6 linked regions of the Homo sapiens genome follow. The protein of the gene in region 6 purifies or fractionates together with the protein of the main gene of each other region. This does not show direct contact. Each region holds a gene or a part of one and is shown on either strand. Other genes may lie near its edges. The genes, in order: ZDHHC5, NUCKS1, HCN1, L1TD1, AP2A2 and REPS1.

The links.
Region 1: the proteins of REPS1 (region 6) and ZDHHC5 purify together in Homo sapiens (co-immunoprecipitation; one large-scale study listed by IntAct). This does not show direct contact.
Region 2: the proteins of REPS1 (region 6) and NUCKS1 fractionate together in Homo sapiens (co-fractionation; one large-scale study listed by BioGRID). This does not show direct contact.
Region 3: the proteins of REPS1 (region 6) and HCN1 purify together in Homo sapiens (co-immunoprecipitation; one large-scale study listed by IntAct). This does not show direct contact.
Region 4: the proteins of REPS1 (region 6) and L1TD1 purify together in Homo sapiens (co-immunoprecipitation; one large-scale study listed by IntAct). This does not show direct contact.
Region 5: the proteins of REPS1 (region 6) and AP2A2 purify together in Homo sapiens (co-immunoprecipitation; 2 studies listed by BioGRID and IntAct, with this or other methods). This does not show direct contact.

The regions. Positions count from the first base shown.
Region 1 is NC_000011.10:57,695,614-57,699,113, reverse strand, and holds part of ZDHHC5 (palmitoyltransferase ZDHHC5), read right to left. Parts: intron 3,195-3,500; coding exon 3,071-3,194; intron 2,354-3,070; coding exon 2,241-2,353; intron 556-2,240; coding exon 1-555. UniProt on the Homo sapiens protein: Palmitoyltransferase that catalyzes the addition of palmitate onto various protein substrates such as CTNND2, CD36, GSDMD, NLRP3, NOD1, NOD2, STAT3 and S1PR1 thus plays a role in various biological processes including cell adhesion, inflammation, fatty acid uptake, bacterial sensing or cardiac functions.
Region 2 is NC_000001.11:205,747,383-205,751,640, forward strand, and holds the start of NUCKS1 (nuclear ubiquitous casein and cyclin-dependent kinase substrate 1), read right to left. Parts: upstream 2,801-4,258; 5' UTR 2,592-2,800; coding exon 2,575-2,591; intron 1-2,574.
Region 3 is NC_000005.10:45,254,448-45,256,914, forward strand, and holds the end of HCN1 (potassium/sodium hyperpolarization-activated cyclic nucleotide-gated channel 1), read right to left. Parts: 3' UTR 501-2,467; downstream 1-500. UniProt on the Homo sapiens protein: Hyperpolarization-activated ion channel that are permeable to sodium and potassium ions. Displays lower selectivity for K(+) over Na(+) ions.
Region 4 is NC_000001.11:62,201,349-62,204,848, reverse strand, and holds part of L1TD1 (LINE-1 type transposase domain-containing protein 1), read right to left. Parts: intron 1,403-3,500; exon of another isoform or gene 1,292-1,402; intron 1-1,291.
Region 5 is NC_000011.10:1,009,305-1,012,740, forward strand, and holds the end of AP2A2 (AP-2 complex subunit alpha-2), read left to right. Parts: intron 1-23; coding exon 24-93; intron 94-378; coding exon 379-513; intron 514-1,243; coding exon 1,244-1,321; 3' UTR 1,322-2,936; downstream 2,937-3,436. UniProt on the Homo sapiens protein: Component of the adaptor protein complex 2 (AP-2). Adaptor protein complexes function in protein transport via transport vesicles in different membrane traffic pathways.
Region 6 is NC_000006.12:138,908,254-138,911,753, forward strand, and holds part of REPS1 (ralBP1-associated Eps domain-containing protein 1), read right to left. Parts: intron 3,119-3,500; coding exon 3,023-3,118; intron 564-3,022; coding exon 415-563; intron 1-414. UniProt on the Homo sapiens protein: May coordinate the cellular actions of activated EGF receptors and Ral-GTPases.

The sequences.
Region 1 (3,500 bases), on a different chromosome or scaffold from region 6:
GCCCGGGAGTGGGGGTGACTGGCGCAGCAACTTCTCTCGTTCCTGGAGAGAGGCCACAATGTGGCGCGACAGATTGTCGTAACGGACTGGTGAGGGCTCTCGGTGTGTTGGGCCAGTTGGCACCAAACGTGGGTGCCTCTCAGCTTCCCGTTGCTGGGCCAGCCTGGCTGACAGGAAGGGAGAGGTATAGCCTAAAGGTGGGTCTGGCTCAGGCCCTGCCTGCACTGACTCAAAATCAGGGCTGTCTGAAGGTGTGAGCAAGCTGTCATAAGATAGGCTTCCATTGCGTGTCTGGTTGGCCAGGCTCTTATAGGAGGTGGAGGTGGTGCCCTCTGAACGAATGGATTGCAACTGGCCCAGCTCAAAGCCTGTGCCCTGGGCTGACTTGAGGCTGGAGGAGCGTGAGCCACTGGATAGTGGATCGAAGTGAAAACTTTTGCCAAAGGTAGGAGAACGGAAGCTCTCTGGTTCCAAGCTGGGCTCTGAGCGGTAGCTGGGGTGACGGCTGCTCTCTGCAATTGAGGTTGGCTCCTTCAAGCTGTCCCCACGACTCAACTGAGGAAGAAAGTAAAGCAGGCTCTTAGTGCTCCTTTTGTGACAGAAGCTAGACCCCAGAGCTCAAGGAGTTGGTCAAAAAGAGAATTATGTGCCAATAATAAGCTTAGAACTCTTACATGCATTATCTGGGTTAATCCCTCAAGAAAAACTGAATTCAGGCAAATATCATCTCCTTTTCAGATACAGAAAGCAAGACGTAGAAAGGCTGAGTATCTCGCCCGTGGGCAGAACTGGGTTATAAACTCGGATCAAGCACTAATCTATTATGCTATATTGCCCAGTCTGATGAAGGACACAGTATCAAGGAGATTGAGTTCCACGAATGCCAACAATTAGTGAAATGTCCTTTCTTCTGCCTTTTCCTTCCCCTAATCTTCTTTTTTTCCCGTAACAGTTGGCATTTGTTTGTGTGTGTGTGTGTGTGTGTGTGTGTGTGTTTTAAGCCCAGGCTGGAGCGTGATGGTGCAATCTTGGCTCACTGCAACCTCAGCCTCCCAGGTTCAAACGATTCTCCTGCCTCAGCTTCCCGAGTAGCTGGGATTACAGGCGCCCCGCCACCACGCCCAGCTAATTTTTGTATTTTTAGTAGAGACAGGGTTTCACCAAGTTGGCCAGGCTGGTCTCAAACTCCTGACCTCGGGTGGTCCGTCTGCCTCAGCCTCCCCAAGTGCTGGGATTACAGGCTTGAGCCACTGTGCTTGGCCTTTTTTTTTTTTTTTTTTTTTTTGAGGTGTAGTCTCACTCTGTCACCAGACTGGAATACAGCAGTGGGAGCTCAGCTCACTGCAGCCTCCACCTCCCAGGTTCAAGCAATTCTCCTCCCAGGTTCAAGCGATTCTCCTTGCCTCAGCCTGCCAAGTAGCTGGGACTACAGATGCATACCACTACCAGCTAATTTTTTTTTTTTTTTTTTGAGATGGACTCTCACTCTGTCACCCAGACTGGAGTGCAGTGGCGCAATCTCGACTCACTGCCACCTCCACCTCCCAGATTCAAGTGATTCTCCTGCCTCAGCCTCCCGAATAGCTGGGATTACAGGTGCCCCCCCACCACGCCCAGATAATTTTTGTATTTATTTATTTATTTTTTTTTTGAGATGCGGTCTCGCTCTGCTGCCCAGGCTGGAGTGCAGTGGCATGATCTCGGCTAACTGCAAGCTCCGCTTCCTGGGTTCACGCCATTCTCCTGGCTCAGCCTCCCGAGTAGCTGGGACTACAGGCACCTGCCACCATGCCTGGCTAATTTTTTTGTATTTTTAGTAGAGACGGGGTTTCACCATGTTAGCCAGGATGGTCTCAATCTCCTGACCTCGTGATTCACCTGCCTCAGCCTCCCAAAGTGCTGGGATTACAGGCGTGAGCCACTGTGCCCGGCAATTTTTGTATTTTTAGTAGAGATGGGGTTTCACCACATTAGCCAGGCTGGTCTCGAACTCCTGACCTTGTGATCCACCAGTCTCGGCCTCCCAAAGTGCTGGGATTACAGGCGTGAGCCACCACGCCTGGCCTAATTTTTGTATTTTTAGTAGAGACGGGGTTTCACCATGTTGGCCAGGACGGTCTCAATCTCTTGACCTTGTGATCCACCCACCTTGGGCTCCCAAAGTGCTGGGATTACAGGAATGAGCCACTGTGCCTGGCCAGTTGGCATGTTATTACCCCACCTCTTAGAGTACTCAGTACCTTGGCGCTGGAGGAATGCGGCATGGCAGCTGACGTACTGCTGCTACTGTAACCCGGCCGATACTTGTACATGGTAGGTGTCGGGGGGCTGTCCTTGGCCAATAAGCTACTATCTGCAAGAAAAAAGGCCAAGGGGGCACTATTTTACAAGCGGTTTTTTGGTTTAAGAGACAGGGTCTCACTCTACTGTCCAAGCTAGAGTGCAGTGGCACGATTATAGCTCACTGGAGCCTTGAACTCCTGGGCTCCCACCTCAGCCTCCTGAGTAGCTGGGACTGCAGGCATATGCCACCATGCCCAGCTAACTTTTTTAAATTTTTTGTAGAGACAGAGTCTTGCTATGTTGCCCAGGGTGGTCTTGAACTCCTGGGCTCAAGCAATCCTCCTGCGTTGGCCTCCCAAAGTGCTGGGATCACAGGTGTGAGCCACTGCGTCTAGTCTATGAGTTGTTCACTTTATCTGCCTAGGGTTCCTTAAGTACAGGGAGAGGACAAGGTAGGAATAGATATACCCTTCGCTGAAATCAAGACTTTTAAAGACTCACACCAGCCCAGAATTCAGGGTGGGTAAATGCACCAAAAAGGTTCTGTGATGTTCTCTGGTCTGCCTAGAGGCTGACCATTTTCCCGGCAAAAGTCCCATTCACTGCCAATAGCTAAATGGCCTCTCTTCTCTTTCAGTTGCAAAGTAGCACAAGTACCAACTGTTGGGTGTTTAAAGTCACAACACGAGTAATATCTCCCAGCCCTTGCCTGTCTTCCACAGCTCATAAGCAACCTTCTCAATCCTGCCCCTAGTTCTAGTATCTTGCAAATCAAGGCAGCCCTTACCCTCATTAGTAGCCAAGCCGAGGTGTGTTCGCAACCCTGTGTAACGGCTCAGGTCTGGCTTAGGAGGAGGTGGAGGTTCAGCATCTGCAGACTGGCTCTCTGTTATCTCCAGGCTTCCCTTAGACTGGATTGATGAAGGGAGGGAAAATCAGATTTAGAAATTGAGCATTATGGCAACTCAAAGTATTAAATTGATATAAGAGGGAGGTATTTGGGAGTCAATTCTCATGTATTTTTTTTTTTTTTTTGAGACAAGGTCTCACTCTGTTGACCAGGCTGGAGTACAGTGGTACGCATGATCATGTTCACTGCAGCCTGCAACTCCTAGGCTCAAGTGCTCTTCCCACCTCAGCCTCCCAAGTAGCTGGGATTACAGGCACATGCCACCACACCCAGTTAATTTATTTTACTTTATTTTGTAGAGATGGGG
Region 2 (4,258 bases), on a different chromosome or scaffold from region 6:
AGTCGGCCACTGCAAAGGGTAAAGACAGCAATCTTGTATGAACAAAGTTAAACATAACGTGCTAGACACAGGTCTTTGCAAAACCATGCAGTAGCCAATAGGTCCACCATACCACCCTTCATTTGGAAATTGATGCTAAGGTGCCATAGGTACATTTCCAAATGCTCTTAAAATGTTTAGGTTCATATTAAAATAAAAATGGATATTTATGGTACAATGAGAACCAGAAAAACTGCAAAATTATACACAGGCCTAAGGGCAGAAATACCCCAAAAGACGACACAGTGACAATATTTTCCAACTTGTGCTTTTTTGTTTTTAAAACAAGGCTGATGATTCTGAAATCAGGTCAATGTCTATCACTTTTTTCGTTGATGTTAAATGCACTAAGGGAATATAGATTCTTCAATTATACTTTGAAACAACATCATTTCCCTAAGTCAGGACTTTTTTATTGCAAAATTTAACAAACCACCAAACTCAAGTTTAATTATTTCTGCTTTATTATTGGTCATGAATAAAGACTTCTTTTAAAAAATAATTACAAAGAATTTATGACTAAAATATACTCCGTAACCAACTTGCTCTGAAATTAATAATTTGAAAATGGCAAAGAAAAAAAAAAACAGCCCACAACATATTAACTTCACTCTTCAATTAGGGGAAATAAACAAGGTCAAAATTAGTTTAAACAACATACTGAGTAATAAAAAAGTTGTGCAGAAGTCCCAATGCCTCCAAAAAACTGATAGAATGTGCTTAATATATATATCCCCACATGGTAACATAAAAAATCCAAGTTTTCCAGTAAAAATGTTCTGTTCATGTTCCAATACCTAAATCTGGGAAAACAAATTCAGGCAGATGAGATAAGAACGTCACCACAATAAAATAAAGTCATCAAAACTTAGTGAACTAAAATTTAAAAGGTAGAGGAATTATTTTTCCTAATTTGACCTAATTTGACCACACAGTAATTACTTCCAGAAGACAAAAGATCCAATCCAGGTAAAATAAATCTTTATTTTATTATTTTACCTGATCCTAAAGAAAATATTCTACGTGAGTTGATGGATACATTGGTCAAGTTTTATGCCAAAAAAATTACGCAAACTATACTCTGAAAGAGCTATCCAGACTCCTTGCCAAAAGGCCAGCATAACTTTCAGAGTAGAGATCGTGAGTTACCACAGATGCTGATTGAAACAGAGCTAACAGCAGCTTTCTCCTCATTCCCACCCCGTGTGTAGGAGTACGCAGTCTCATACCACCACCAGTTGGAGGATGATCTAGTCTGGAGACAGAACGGTGTAGAACAAAACCCTTGCCAGGGTCCCAAACCTCTCTTTAGAACTCTAATTAAAGGTACTTCCGTTTCCCACACAACTTGGAATGAAGGGGAAGCAACGACTGTTAAAACATTTAAAAACTAAGCCTTTATCTATTTATTTAGAAAACACACTATGCAAAGAAGCCAATTCCTTACATTAAAAATATTTATTTGCAACAGCTCTCCTTTTTAAGGCCTCAACAGATTGGACTAAACCACACCCCTCCATAAATGGCACATTCCATACAATAGCCTGGAGAATGGCATAGGACGATTCCACCGACAGCTGGGGGAATAGCAAACTTGTTGAAATTCCGAGAATGAAGTCTGATGGTTACCCGAACCTAGCCCTTTTATTACTAAAGTCACTCGGGGACAAGAGGGTTACAAAAATATCCCGAGACGCGTACGCGGGTGAGAGTGGAACGAGAACCACACGGGATTTGGGCCGTGCTGTTAACCCGCACCTCCCTGAGTACGGACATTTCCCCGAGGAAGGACATTTCTAGTCGGAGAGAAAGAGCGAACTTTGGGGTTAACTCTCTCAAAACTCTGAGGTGGGGAGAGAGGCAGCAGCCCATTATTTTCCAGGATCCAGTCCCGAACTCTCACTTTTGCCCGGGGGGAAAAAAACGGGTCCCGCCCACGCTCGGCCCGATCCGGGAGGCGGGGCCTGCAGCGACCCCGAAGGACAGAGGCGGGGCCGGTTGGCAGTGCTGCCCCTCCCCCTTTGCCAGGAACACCCCCGTCCGCTACAGAGAGGGCTCAGGGCCCCCACCCCCGCGCCAGTCGCTGGGGGAAGGGGCAATACGGGTGCCTCCGCCCCTCCTCGCTGAAGGTGGGGAGTGGAGCTCGAGTCCGCCCGCCTCCCCGCGCTGGCTCCAAGGGGACGGCCCCGAGGAGGTGGGGCCTCTTGGGGGCGCTGACTTCACACCCCTCCCCCTCCGGCCGCTGGCGGCTCAGGGACACCCCGCCCGCTCTAGTGCGGTGGGTGGGGGAGGCAGCTGAGCAGACCGGAGCCCTGCAGCGGCGCGGGGCGGGGAGGGGCGCGCGCACGGGCGCGCAGCCACCACCCCCGCGCGCCAGCAGGGCCCCCCACGCTCAAGGGTGCGCGCGGGCCCCGAAAGGGAGGAGGCCGCGCGCGGCACCGGGGATGGCGGACTCTAGCCTTCTGTCCCCCACTCTTTTCACCACTCGCCCCCATCCCCCTCCAACCCGCTCCAGGCCTCAGACTCCGCACTGACCTGACAGGCCGCGACATGTTCGCTGTCGAAACAGGACCGAGTCGAGAAGCCAAAGACCAGGACCCCCCCCACCCCGCGCGCTCGGCGCCCCACCCCCCCCGAACTTCAGCCGATGGGACCGCTGCTGCCGAACCCCGAGCTGCTGGCTTCTCAAACTCCGCTGCTCTTTGGTTCAGGGCTCCTGGAACAGACGAGCCCCCCGCTCCCCCGTCTCTTCAAAATGGATGAATCAAACCAGCCGAAAATGCGCCAAAGCCGCCGTGCAACCAAACCCACTAGGGTTTGTGCGCTCCTCCCCAACACGCCTGCTCATTGGAGACTTCTGCCAGATGCGCCCAGATCATTAGTCCGTTTGAATCATCACGTCTTCCAGGCCCCGCCCTGCTCTCTGATAGGCTCCACCTTCACCGTGGGGGTCCTGTTAGTCAAGATGCTCTGAGAGCGCACGGCCGCAAAACAAAAATGGTCGCTGCTTAGCCCGCCCCCTGGTTTCCACTCCAGAGTTGCAGATTCGTCTGGGGTCGTATCTTAGAAAGACTAGAAAAAAAGATTTATGTAGGGTTCAGCGTTGCTCAGTGTTAGTTTAATGGTGTTTCATCTCGTCTGCCTTGATCACCTTGAAAATCCTCTAATAGCAAAACCCGTGGGAGAGGCAGCAGATTCGTCACTGCGGGGCTGCTACAGAATTGGAGGGAAATTCCTTAGGTTCAAAAAATTTGACCTTAAACCTACAAGCCCCTTACCCTGGCTTCGGCATTAACCCTCAGGGACCAAATGAGGCTGCTGGAGTAGAGAGGCAGGATCATAATCAAGGAATATCTTCACCCCCAATTACCATTCTCCATTCTGGACCTTGAGATCCACTTCAGGGTCATTAAAGTCCCAGTCTGGTGCATTACTATTTTAAGAAAAGAGTCAGGTGTACAATAACTAAGAGCATGAGCTCAGGGGCCACAAGGTATTTCAGGTGGAATCCCAGGTCCACTACTTAATGGTGGTATAACTTTCCTTCTCTGTGCCTCAGTTTTCTCATCTGTAAAATGGGAAACAAGGGTACCTAACTGCATAGGCTTATTAGTATTAAATGAGTTGATATATCTATCAAAAGTCTTTAGGATAGTCTCTGGCTCACAGTAAGTGCTACGTAAGTGTTAAATCCAAGTTTTAAAAGATGATTCCGTCCCTGGGTAGAGATGGGTGGAGCTGGCTCAAGACCCTATGAATTCTATTGATTTACCCTTGCACTTTGAAAAACAAAACAAAGACTCTTCGAAGTCATATAACTGAAAGTAACGCACATCATTTCACTTAAATCCGTGAGCATTTGTTGGATGCCTAATACTCTCAAAGGCAGAGCTCAGGATTCCTATGTGAATGGCTAAGGCTGAGTCTGCTATCGAAAATAGACGTCAATCCCTGTCACAGTCAAAGCGATCATTTTTGTTTGGTGGCTGTGCGCTCTCAGAGCATCTTGACTAACAGGACCCCACGGTGAAGGTGGGGCCTATCAGAGAGTAGGGTGGGGCCTGGAAGACGTGATGATTCAAACGGACTAATGATCTGGGCGCATCTGGCAGAAGTCTCCAATGAGCAGTCAGTTAACAACCAATTGAAGATACACTTTCCAAACAACAACAACAAAAAACACACCACATCTGCCTCCTGAAAGTCTCCCTTTGTAAAA
Region 3 (2,467 bases), on a different chromosome or scaffold from region 6:
TTGTAAAATGCACCAAACTGCGCTCTGTAAAATGCACCAATCAGTGCTCTGTAAAATGCACCAATCAGCAGGAGTCTAAAAGTAGCCAATCGCAGGGAGGATTGAAAAAAGGCACTCTGATAGGACAAAAATGGAACATGGGAGGGGACAAATAAGGGAATAAAAGCTGGCCACCCCCAAGCCAGCAGAGGCATCCCACTGGGGTTTGCTTCCACCTGTGGAAGCTTTGTTTTCACTCTTACTGCTCCTTACTCTTTGGGTCTGTGCCATTTTTAAGAGTTGTAACACCGCAAAGGTCCGTGGCTCCATTCTTGAAGTCAGTGAGACCATGAACCCACTGGAAGGAACCAACTCCGGACACAATATGACTATATAATTCTACCATGGGTAGAATAAGCAAGTAGAGCAAGACATAAGCAGTAGAGCCAGTTTTTGTAGTCAGGCTTTCTAAACACTGCAGGTGTATAGATATAGCTGATGAAGAGAAGCTCTTTGCAAAATATTGACCACATTCATTTATTTTTATAATGTCAATGTATTATTGATAGCATTAAAAATGTTACAGAAGGCAATGGACACATTGTACTGATGTGATATTAAGAAACATTGCTAGCTATGGCACCAAAATTTATGTGACATAAGGAAATTATAATACCTAACACATATTAGTTTTCTCTTCCCTGGTTCTAACTAGCAAGTGCCAGGAGGCAGGCTGGGTTAGACAGCGTGACCAAGAGTAAACTTTGGATGGTCCAGGATAAAATTATAACATAGGTGGTTTGTCGTTGCTTGTGTTTATTTAATGTTCTCTCGCTTTCCTTGTCTAGCCAAGATCCCATGCTATGTTGACTTGTCATCTCCAGAAATGTCTTCACACTTGGAAGTTCCCTTAAAAAGCCCTTAAAATTTACCTCCTCTAGGACTTACTAGTTCCAATTTTTTCAATATTAATACACATATGAATCATCTGGGGATCTTGCCCAAAAGCGGACTTCTGTAGGTACAGGGTAAGGCCAAGGACTCTGCACTTCTTGTAATTATACTTCTGGGTGATACTGACGCTGCAGTTCCATGCACCACACTTTCCACAGTGAGGCACGCAAGAACATTTAGAACTGCACATTTTAAACAGAATTGTAATATGTTAGGTTGGTAATAGATGTTAGAAGAGTTAGGCAAACAAGATTTAATTTTGAATGCTTGGAAACTAAGACCTTGAACAAATATGAGAAAGAAATGAGAATACATTTGGAAAACTCTTTTTGAATCTTTCAAATTTCTTTGGGTTATGTTCTTTCTTCCTTCAAAAGTAAATCTTTCCTTTCTCAGGAGTTTTCCTCACAAATTTAACAGGAAATAAAAACCTTTCAAGAAAGTCTCTTTGCCTCTACACATCTGAATATTCTCTGTAGAAAACGATGCAACCTGTTTTTTTGCAAAATTCCGTTATTTAAAAAAAAAAGTCTGAATAACTCTACGTTACCTGAATTCAATTATATAATCTATTGGAAACATAAAGTGGTCCTCTTTTGAAGAATTATTATATTTACTAATTTATTCAGATTTCTTCAATTGAATGAATCAATAGTATTCTCTGCTCATATGGTATTACTGAAACAACTACATAGAAAAAAATAGCAGGGCCGGGTGCGGTGGCTCAGGCCTGTAATCCTAGCACTTCTGGAGGGTGAGGCGGGCGGATCACTTGAGGTTAGGGGTTCGAGACCGGCCTGGCCAACATGGTAAAACCCTGTCTCTACTAAAAATTACAAAAATTTAGCTAGCCATGGTGGCGGGCACCTGTAATCCCAGCTACTCTGGAGGCTGATGCAGGAGAATTGCTTAAACCTGGGAGGCTGATGTTGCAGTGGGCCAAGATCCTGCCATTGCACTCCCACCTGGGTGACAGAGCCAGACTCCATCTTAAAAAAAAAAAAAAAAAAAGATGTTTCCCTTTGGGAGTAAATGGCCATTGATGTTACATTAGAAATATAATAGCTCCAAAGAATGTTCACCTTTGCCACTCTTTGGAGCGTGTGTGATATCTCCAATAGAAATTAAAGAACTGGCTTCACTTTTTTGTTTGTTTGGGTTTTTCTTGAGAAAGGGTTTTGCTCTGTCCCCCAAGCTGGAGTGCAGTGGAACGAACAGGGCTCACTGCAGCCTTGACCTCCTAAGTTCAAGCGATCCTCCTGCCTTAACTTTCTGAGTAACTAGGACTACAGGAATACACCACCTATAGTCGGGTTTTCTAAACACTGCAGGTATGTAAGTATATACTGGTCAATTAAAAAAATTTTTTTTCCTTGTAGAGACCAGGTCTTGACATGCTGCCCTGGTTGGTCTCCAATTCCTGGCCTCAAGCATTCCTCCCACTTTGGCCTCCCAAAGTGCTAGGATTACAGGCATGAGCCACCACGCCTGGCCTGAGAACTTGCTTTATTTTAGCCAAAATTATTTTATCACT
Region 4 (3,500 bases), on a different chromosome or scaffold from region 6:
GAGCTGACATCGCACCATTGCACTCCAGCCTGGGTGACAGTGTGAGACCCTGTCCCCTCCCCTGCAAAATAAGAATCACATAAGCAGCTAAAATGTCATTCTTGTCAGGGCAAAAGATATATGCTCAGCACCCAACCAAGAATTTCAAGCAGGGCACGGTGCCACACCTGTAATCCTAGCACTCTGGGAGGTTAAGGTGGAATGATTACTTGAGCCCAGAAGTTCAACATCAGCCTGGGCAACATAGTGAGACGCTGTTTCTAAAAAATAATTTCAGAAATTTTTCATTGCAATAAAAATTGAATCAGGAAAAAGGATAGCATAAAAGTAAAAGATAAATTAAACTTAAAAACTTCTATGTTTAATGTTTAAATACTAAAGGTTAAAGTTATTTAAATTTTAAAATGACTATTCAGTCAAACTAATGGAGAAACTTAAAATACTAAATCAAAATGATAACTACCTATCAAAACTTGGGGAATGTAGCTAAAGTGGTGCTTTGAGGAAAATGTATAGACTTAAAATTTTAGAATTTTCTAGAAAGAATAAAAATTAAAGTTAAATTACCAGATCAAGGGCAAAATCTACCCAAGAAACCAAAAGAGATGCGCGCAAATCAAAGAAATGAAAAACAGAAACTTATAGAGAATTAACAAAACCAAAATACAAATAAGGAATACTATGAATAACAAGGGGACACAACTACAGATAAAGCATGGTTCAAAAATGGGAGCACCATTCAACTTTCATAATTAAATCAGAAAATTTAGAAGCAACTATTATCTTAGCTGTGCCCAAACTCTTCTAGAGAATAGCGAAAAAAGGCCAGGCACGGCGACTCACATCTAGAATCCCAGCACCTTGGGAGGCCAAGGCAGGTGGATCCCCTGAGGTCAGGACTTTGAGACCGGCCTGGCCGAGATGGCGAAACCCCATCTCTACTAAAAATACAAAAATTAGCAGAGGCCAGGCGTGGTGGCTTACACCTGTAATCCCAACACTCTGGGAGGCCGAGGCAGGTGGATCACAAGGTCAGGAGATAAGACACCATCCTGGCTAATACGGTGAAACCCTTTCTCTACTAAAAATATAAAAACAAAAAATTAGCTGGGTGTGGTGGCAGGCACCTGCAGTCCCAGCTACTTGGGAGGCTGAGGCAGGAGAATGGCATGAACCTGGGAGGCAGAGCTTGCAGTGAGCCTAGATCGTGCCACTGCACTCCAGCCTGAGCGTCAGAGCGAGACTCCGTCTCAAAAGAAAAAAAACATTAGCCAGACGTGGTGGCACGCACCTGTAGTCCCAGCTACTCAGGAGGCTGAGGTATAAGAATCACTTGAACCTGGGAGGTGGAGGTTGCAGTGAGCCAAGATCACGCCACTGTACCGGGCGACAGAGTGAGACCCTGTCTCAAAAAAAAAAGAGAGTAGAATGATAGTTACCAGAGCCTGGGAAGGGTAGTAGGTGGGTGGATGTAGGGAATAGGGATGGTTAATGGGTACAAAAATAATCTAGTATTTGATAGCACAGCAGGGTAACTACACTCAACAATAGCTTATTGTATACTTAAACAGTATAATTGGAATGTTTGTAACAAGAAGAAATGATAAATGTTTGAGGTAGTGCATAGGATACCCCCATTTACCCTGATGTGATTATTACACATTGCATGCCTGTATGGAAATAAATATATACATCTACTATGTAACCATAAAAATTTAAAACAGGCCAAGCGCAGTGGCTCACACCTGTAATCCCAGCACTTTCGGTGGCCGAGGTGAGTGAGCGGATTGCTTGAGCCCAGGAGTTTGAGACCAGCCTCAGCAATGCAGTGAGACCTCATCTCCAGTTTTTTTAAAAAACAAATTAGGCTGGGTGAGGTGGCTCATGCCTGTAATCCCAGCACTTTGGGAGGCCGAGGTGGGCAGATCACCTGAGGTCAGGAGTTCGTGACTACCCTGGCCAACATGGTGAAACCCTGTCTCTACTACAAATACAGATTTAGCTGGGCGTGGTGGTGGGTTCCTGTAATCCCAGCTGCTCAGGAGGCTGAGGCAGGAGAATCAGTTGAAGCCAGGAGGCGGAGGTTGCAGTGAGCTGGGATCGTGCCATTGCCTCCAGCCTGGGCGACAAGAGCAAAAGAGCAAGACTCTGTCTCAAAAAAAAAAAAAAAAAAAAAAAATTAAACCCTGGATGTGGAAGTTGCAATGAGCCCAGATCACGCCTCTGGGCTACAGAGTAAGCCTCTGTCTCAAAAAAATAAAAAATAAAAAATTTTAAATGAACAGCTAAAAAAAAAAAAAAAGAAAAGAAAAAGAAAAAAGCATGATAGTTACAAAAAATTGTTTAAAAAACACGGCACTCATTTATCACAAAGTAACTTCCAAAATATGAGCAACAGGAGGTAAGGGGGACAAATGTATACAGAAAATCTTGATTACACCAGAGTAAAGGTCAAAAGAGGAAACATGTAAAACATGTAAATGATTACTAAAAAAGAGAAGGAATCAATATTAATTACACATTTCACCCTCAGCCTTTTTTTTTTTTTGAGATGAAGTTTCACTCTTGTTGTCCAGGCTGGAATGCAATGGCATGATCTCGGCTCACCGCAACCTCCACCTCCCAGGTTCAAGCGATTCTCCTGCCTAAGCCTCCCAAGTAGCTGGGATTACAGGCATGTGCCACCACGCCTGGCTAATTTTGTACTTTTAGTAGAGACAAGGTTTCTCCGTGTTGGTCAGGCTGGTCTCGAACTCCCAACCTCAGGTGATCCACCCACCTCGGCCTCCCAAAGTGCTGGGATTACAGGCGTGAGCCACCTCACCCAGCCTCATCCCTCTTAATTAAGTAAATTTTAAAAACCCAGCACCAGTAGTGTCTGAATCTAATCAAGGACTGAGAAAGCAACCAAATAGTCCACCGGACAGGTCCATAGGACCCTATACAGGACTTCAACAGGAATAAAGGGGCCCACTCTCATTCAGGAGACTAAGGGAATTCACTAGATGCAATGTACGCTCCCCCTATTTTGGATCTCTATTTGAATGAATCAACTGTAAAATGCAGGGAGTACTGAATATGGACTGATTATTAAATATTGAGGAATATATATTTTATTAACTGTAACAATACTGTATTTAGTTAAGAAAGTCTCCTTATTTTATAAGAGCTACATACTGAAGTTTTTACAGGTGAAATGGCATGATGTCTGGGATTTACTTTAAAACACAGCAAACAACTAAGAAAGAAAAAAGAGAGATTAAACAAATGGGGGAAAATATTTGTTTTTGAATCTAGGTGATGAGTTCTTACTTTTATTGATGTTTGAATATGCTAATTTTTTTTTTTTTTTTTTTTTAAGCAGGGTCTCACTCGCCGAGGTTGGAGTGCAGTGGCACCGGGTCTAGCCTGATAATGCTTCTAATATTTTTTTTTAAACTGAAAATCCTTAAGGAAAACCACTGAGCTCTCCCTGGTGAAATAGACTTCTACTTGACTTG
Region 5 (3,436 bases), on a different chromosome or scaffold from region 6:
CTCGCCTTTGCTGTTTCTCACAGTCCACAGCAGGAAGTGCAGAACATCTTCAAAGCAAAGCACCCAATGGACACAGAAGTCACCAAAGCCAAGGTAACACGTCTGGAGGGACGGCCCCGGGGGACACGCAGCCCGTGACCCCGCGCCAGGGTCTGGAGGGACGGCCCCGGGGAACACGCAGCCCATGACCCCGCGCCAGGGTCTGGAGGGACGGCCCCGGGGGACACGCAGCCCGCGACCCAGCGCCAGGGTCTGGAGGGGCGGCCCCGGGGGACACGCAGCCCACGACCCAGCGCCAGGGTCTGGAGGGGCGGCCCCGGGGGACACGCTGCCCGCGACCCCGCGCCAGGGTCCTCATTCTCCTGTTTCTTTGGACAGATCATTGGATTTGGTTCTGCACTTCTTGAAGAAGTTGATCCTAATCCTGCGAATTTCGTGGGAGCTGGAATCATCCACACGAAAACCACCCAGATTGGATGCCTGCTGCGCTTGGAGCCGAACCTGCAAGCCCAGGTCAGGCCCTCAGGAAATGGTGGAACACACTTGAGTTGCTTTTTATTCTGGCACAATGTACGTGGTGAGATGTGTAGCTCTTTAGTGCAGTTCAGTCAGTTTTGACAGATGTTGTTTAACCACCACCCTGTCAATACATGGTTGCCTCCCAGCCTCCCCGCAGCTGGCCACCGTGGAGCATCATCCCTAGTGCAGTTCAGTCAGTTGTGACAGATGTTGTGTGCCTGTTTAACCACCACCCTGTCAATACATGGTTGCATCCCAGCCTCCCCACAGCTGGCCACCGTGGAGCATCGTCCCACCATGGAGCAGCCTGGCCCTGGGCGGTGGCTCTCCCAGCTGTTCCTCTCTGTCACCGCGTTGTTCCTTCTCACCACGTCCCGTTCTGGCGACGGACACCTGTCTCCGTTTCACTTGGGTGGCACCCAGGAGTGCTGCTGTCGCCCAGGGCCTGTGTGTGGTTAGTGCTGCAAGAACATCCCACAGCTTCTCCAGGTGGCCGTGCCACTTTGCACTCCCGCCAGCTACGTACGAGACGCCAGGCGCTCCCATGCCAGCCCTCAGTTTTCATGCTGACAGTGTGTGTGGTGCTCAGGCCTCTGCCGAGTTGTGGGTGCCTCCAGAGAGTGGTCCCTGGGCATGGCCCACAGGGTTCTGCATGGCGGATCCTGGACCCGAGGGCTGTGTGAGCCTCGGCGTGCCCGTTGACCTGCTGTGCTCTCTGTTTCAGATGTACCGGCTCACGCTGCGCACAAGTAAGGAAGCCGTTTCTCAGAGATTATGTGAATTGCTCTCAGCGCAGTTTTAGTCCTGAGGATGGAAGACCAGGCTCGTGTGTCTTGTGTTGTCTTCGTCTGTGCCGTTTGTCTTCGTGGCCATCCTGCAGATGAGCACCGTGTCCAGTGCCACAGCACAAGGCGCCTCCCCGCCCCGCCGCCCCACACCTCTCCCCTTTGGGCTGGACGGGAACACACGTGTGTGGCTCAGGAGGAAAAGCTCAGCCTGGACTGTGGCAGCCACGGCAGAAGGTGGATCTTGGGATCAATTTTTATAAAAATCGAGACAGTTCTGTGGTTAAATCTACAAATTAAAGGGAAATTAGAAGTTGGCGTGAACGTGGCGTTTGTGGGAGTGTCACTGAGATGGCCCGTGCTGCCGCCCACCCCGCCTCGGAGCCTCTGGGAGCAGCAGTGCCACTGTGCATGGCGTGGGCTGAGCCTTGGTGTGTGGCCGTCCTGGTGGCTGCACACCTGGCGTCGTCCTGGGCCCTTGGGAGGAGCACAGCTGACCCTGGTTTTGCTGCAGTCCCAGCTGGACTGTTTTCCCAGGCAGGATTTTAATCTAGAATTTAGAAACATTTGTATTTGTAATGACTTCTGGCAAAAGCACGTGTCCTGGCCGGATGTAACTGTTCTCCTTTCCCAGCTCCTGTTTGTGAAGGGCGTCTGTTATGCTCCTGCAGTCGCCGAGGCCTTGGATGTGCAGCCAGGGGAGGAGCGTCCTGCCGGCCCCGCAGGGCCCCCAGGACTCCAGGGTAAAGTGTGGGCCGGTGGCGCAAGACTCAGAGGTGTGCTCGTCTCTTTCCTGTCAGAGTGGGCGTCCCCAGGCCACGGTGCAGGCCTGAGTCCTTCCACCGGCCCCGTCCAGTCGTCCCTGGAGGGGCTGTGGAGGAGGGACGCCTCTGTGTGGTCAGGAAGTGAAGGGGCCATTGGCCGCATGCCATGTGCCACCTGCGGCTTGTGTCTCACCTGTCATCTGGACTCAGCACCCAGGCTGCACGTCTGACACCTGAGAGGCGAGAGAGTGGGGCCGGCCTAGGAGCCAAGGCTGGGGCCTTGCGCTCTGTCCCCAGGATGGTGGCCTTGTTTGTCCTAAACACACCCAGCACAGGTTCTGGCTTCCTGACATGCTGTGGAGGCAGGGAGGGTGGGTGGCCACATGTGCTTGAGGGTTTTCACCCTGGCCCTCAGTTGCCTGCTGTGCGGGTCCCTGGGGCAGCTGCAGGGGCTCATGGACCCATCAGGGTCTCCACAGCTCCCCTGCAGTGTGTGCACCCCACAATGTCTGCGGCTCTTCTTCCGGCGTGTCGGGCTTTGATCACAGCATAGCCACGTCAGTGGCGTGCGCCTCTCGCACAGGCCATTCTGGGTCTGGTGGTGCCAGGTGCCGTGACACGCCGTGCTGGGCTTGTGCTGCAGCTGGGTGGTGTGGCCCTCATTCTCATGTTCCAGCTGCTGGGCAGTGCTCTGCCTGTGTGCTGCGCCTGCAGGCTGCGTGTGCTGCCGTGGATCTCCTGCATCCCTTGACCCCTCCCGCCATCAGAGGAAAGGCTGCTCCCCGAGGCACCGCTTCCCTGTGCGGCGCTGCAGAGGGGCCCTCAGTGTGGCACTCCTCGTCAAAGAAAAATAAAGGCTAGAACTGCACCCCGGATCACGCGCTTTCTTTGGGGGGAAAGCATCCCATGTAACCCTCATAGCTCCCCGGGGGTCGCGTGAGGCACAGACCCCAAGGTCCCCGACCTGTCCTTCAGCAGTGGGCTCACGGGCAGCGGGCATCAGAAAGTGACCTGCCCTTTGCTCCGCCGGTTTGATTCTGGGTGTGTGGTGGAGCTTTTTGGGACTCAGGTCATGCGGGAACCCCTCCAGCCTGGCCGCAGGGCTCCCCACTGTACAGTGTGTTGAGGTGCAGCCCAGGGCTCCTTCCTGGGGAACGGGAGGCCCCGTGGGGATCCTCCAGTTGATCCTACCACAGATGGTGCAGAAGGGGCTCTCGGGCAGATGGGGGTGGCCCCCGGAGGACGGTGGGCTTCGCCAGAGACGGAACAGTCCTAATGGAGGGAGGGCAGGGGCCCAAAGCCAGAGGCAGCTTCTCTTACCAGCCCAGACCCTGCTGGGGGCAGCCCTGCCCAACTGCAGATCCCAGG
Region 6 (3,500 bases):
AAAGAACTAGTCTGACCATAATTTACTTCAGTCTGATTATTGTTATTATTATTATTTGTGAGATGAAGTCTTGCTCTGTTGCCCAGGCTGGAGTGCAGTGGTGCCACCTCGGCTCACTGCAACCTCCGCCTCCTGGGTTCAAGCAATTCTCCTACCTCAGCTTCCCGAGTAGCTGGGACTACAGGTGTGTACCACCACACCCGGCTAATTTTTTTGTATTTTTAGCAGAGATGGGGTTTCACCATGTTGGTCAGGCTGGTCTAACTCCTGACCACAAATGATCTGCCCAGCTCAGCCTCCCAAAATGCTGGGATTACAGGTGTGAGCCACCACGCCTGGGCCAGTTTGATTACTTTTAATTGTCGTGCTTTTTCTTCCTAGTAATTAAATGTGTCTAGGAATAGCTTTGATTACCTGGGAATAGAAGGTTGTGATGCAAGAACAGCAGCTAAGACACCCGTCTTTTGTGTATGTTCATCAACTTCTGGCCTTAATTCATCTTCTGATTTTAATCTTCTTCGAACAGGTTTAGGTGGTGGAGCAAGTGGTGTTGTGCCTTTGCTCTTTAAGACAAGAATTCCATTAATAATAAGCATTTTTGAAGACATTCATAGTTAGCACTTTGCAACACCATTTGCTTTCTTTAAGCCATTTGCTCTTGGAAAATTGAAAGTTACTTGTCCTACTTTAAATCTATATATTTGTGGCAAGAGCTAACTTAAATTACAGTGAGAAAAGATGTTTCTAGTTGACACCACAATCATGAATGTACCTGCAATATAAGTATTTTTAGAGCAACATACTGATGCAAGACTGTAATATTCACAGTTTTAACATAAATATGATACAGAATCAATATATACCTGTTCAACAATAAACAAAGGCAGTCTCCAGAAATATCTATGCATTATCACCATAGGATTTCTTACTCAAAAATACTAACATTCATCTTAGTGAATAAAATAACATTATAAAGTAATGGAAAGCTAGGCAACTCTTTAAAAAACCAAAAACATCATTATTAATATGCACAGTAATTATAACTTCTGAAAATGAGTTGACAGTTTGTCGGTGATTATGAATCTGCCCTTGGCAGAATAAAAAACAGCATTTTGGCATTTACCATAACTTGATTTACCTGTAAATAAATAAAAACAATAGTCAACTGCTATCTCTTTAGTTAAGTGATATTTTTAATTTGTTACTGTGAGTTGACAAAAATAAAGTTCATTACTTAAAAACTCACAGGACTACTAATGTAATAAAACATAGTGATATGGTTTGGCTCGGTGTCCCCAGATCTCACTTCAAATTGTAATCCCCATGTGTCAAGCGAGGGGCCTGGTGGGAGGTGACTGGGTCATGGGGGTGGTCCCCCATGCTGTTCTTATGAGAGTGAGGGAGTTCTCACAAGACCTAATGGTTTTACAGTGAGGCACTTCCTCACTCTTTTTCTATCCTGCCACCTGCTTCCCCTTTGCCTTCCGCCATAAATGTAAATTTCCTGAGGCCTCCCCAGCCATGCAGAGCTGTGAGTCAATTAAATCTCTTTTGTTTATAAATTACCGTCTCAGGTGGTATCTTTATAGCAGTGTGAAAACAGACTAATACACACACAGTGTCCAGAAAGTAGAATTTAAGCACTTCAGAAACACATGCTGTTTTTATAACTATTGGGAATGTCTAGATAACAGAAAAAAAAAGTTACCAAAATTATTCCCTCAAAGGGAAAGTGTGCTGATACTTGCAATCTAAAGTACACTGATATAGTTTAGATATTTGTCCCCTCCAAATCTCATGGTGAAATGTGACCTCTAATGTTGGAGGTGGGCCTAGTGGGAGGTGTTTGGGTCATGGAGATAGATCCCTTGTGAATGGCTTGGTGCCCTTCTCACAGTAATGAATGAGTTCTTACTCTTGAGTTCACATGAGAGCTGGCTGTTTAAAGAGCCTGGCATCTCTCCTTGCTCCCTCACTCACCATGTGACACACCGGCTCCCACTTTGCCTTCTGCCATGATTCTAAGTTTCCTGAGGCTTCACAAGAAGCAGATGCTGGTACCATGCTTTCTGTACAGCATGCAGAACCATGAGGCAAAATAAACCTCTTTTCTTTTTTTGAGACAGGGTCTCACTCTGTCACCCAGGGTGGAGTGTAGGGCACTATCTCAGCTCACAGCAACCTCCACCTCCCAGGCTCAAGCGATCCCCCCACTTCAGCCTGCCAAGTAGCTGGGACTATAGGCGCATACCACCACACACGGCTAATATTTGTACTTTTTGTAGAGACGGGGTTTCGCCACATTGCCCAGGCTGGTCTCAAACTCCTGAGTTCAAGTGATCCGCCTGCCTTGGACTCTCAAAGTGCTGGGATTACTGGTGTGAGCCACTGTGTCCGGCATAACCTCTTTTCTTTACAGATTACCCAGTCTCACATATTCCTTTATAGCAATGCAGACGGACTAACACAGACATAAAACATATAAGGATTGACAGATGAACAGATGGCATGGAGAGATATGTAGTAAAGCAAGTATCCTAAAATAATAATGGTATAAAGTAGTGAATTTACTGATGTACAATGAAAAATTGTTTCAATTTTTCTGTATGCTTAAACGTTTTCATAATAAAATGTTGGGGGAAAAAATTATACCTAAAACAGTTAAAGAACAAGTTAAGAGAACAGGGAATAATAACAACCTTAGAGGGCTGATAATTTTTCTTTATTATATTGAAGACTACAATAAAAGAAACTGAATTTCACCTATAAAGAAGTTCTACCTTATATAGTGGGAAGAATGCAATAACCACTTAAATTTTGAGAACCTGTGACACATACTTAACATAGATTACAGAATATCATCTCCATTAAATAGGCAGACTTTGTTCTGAGCTAGACTGACTATACTACAGTTAAAGGCAGAGAAATGGGTTAGATGATTTCTGGCTGACCTTATTTCTAAAAATTATTTCACATTACTTATGATGTACAAAATTATTATTATAAAAGACATTTTGCATACCACATTGGCAGGAGCACTAGCAGCTGTCTTTTCTTCAGTTTTACTATCTGTTTTGGCAACTCGAAGAGAACTTGCAGGATCAGAAGCTTTTTCAGCCTAAAAATGAATATGTTTATCACTATTAATTCTACATAACATGTAATTATGCATAAATATAGAATATGTACCAAATCAGAATAAAATGTTAAATATTCTGACAAGAAAACTGAGATGATGATAAGAAACTTGAAGGAACTTTATTAAATGAGCCTTCTCTGCTACTGAAAGGCAGATGGGAGAGCAGGTAATAGATGTGTGAGGGAGAGGAGGACAGGGCAAGGATGCAGCTATGTAACAGATGTGTGAGGGAGAGGAGGACAGAGCGAGGATGCAGGTAACAGATGTGTGAGGGAGAGGAGGATGGGGCGAGGATGCAGGTAATAGATGTGTGAGGGAGAGGAGGACGGGGCAAGGATGCAGGTAGTAGATGTGTGAGGGA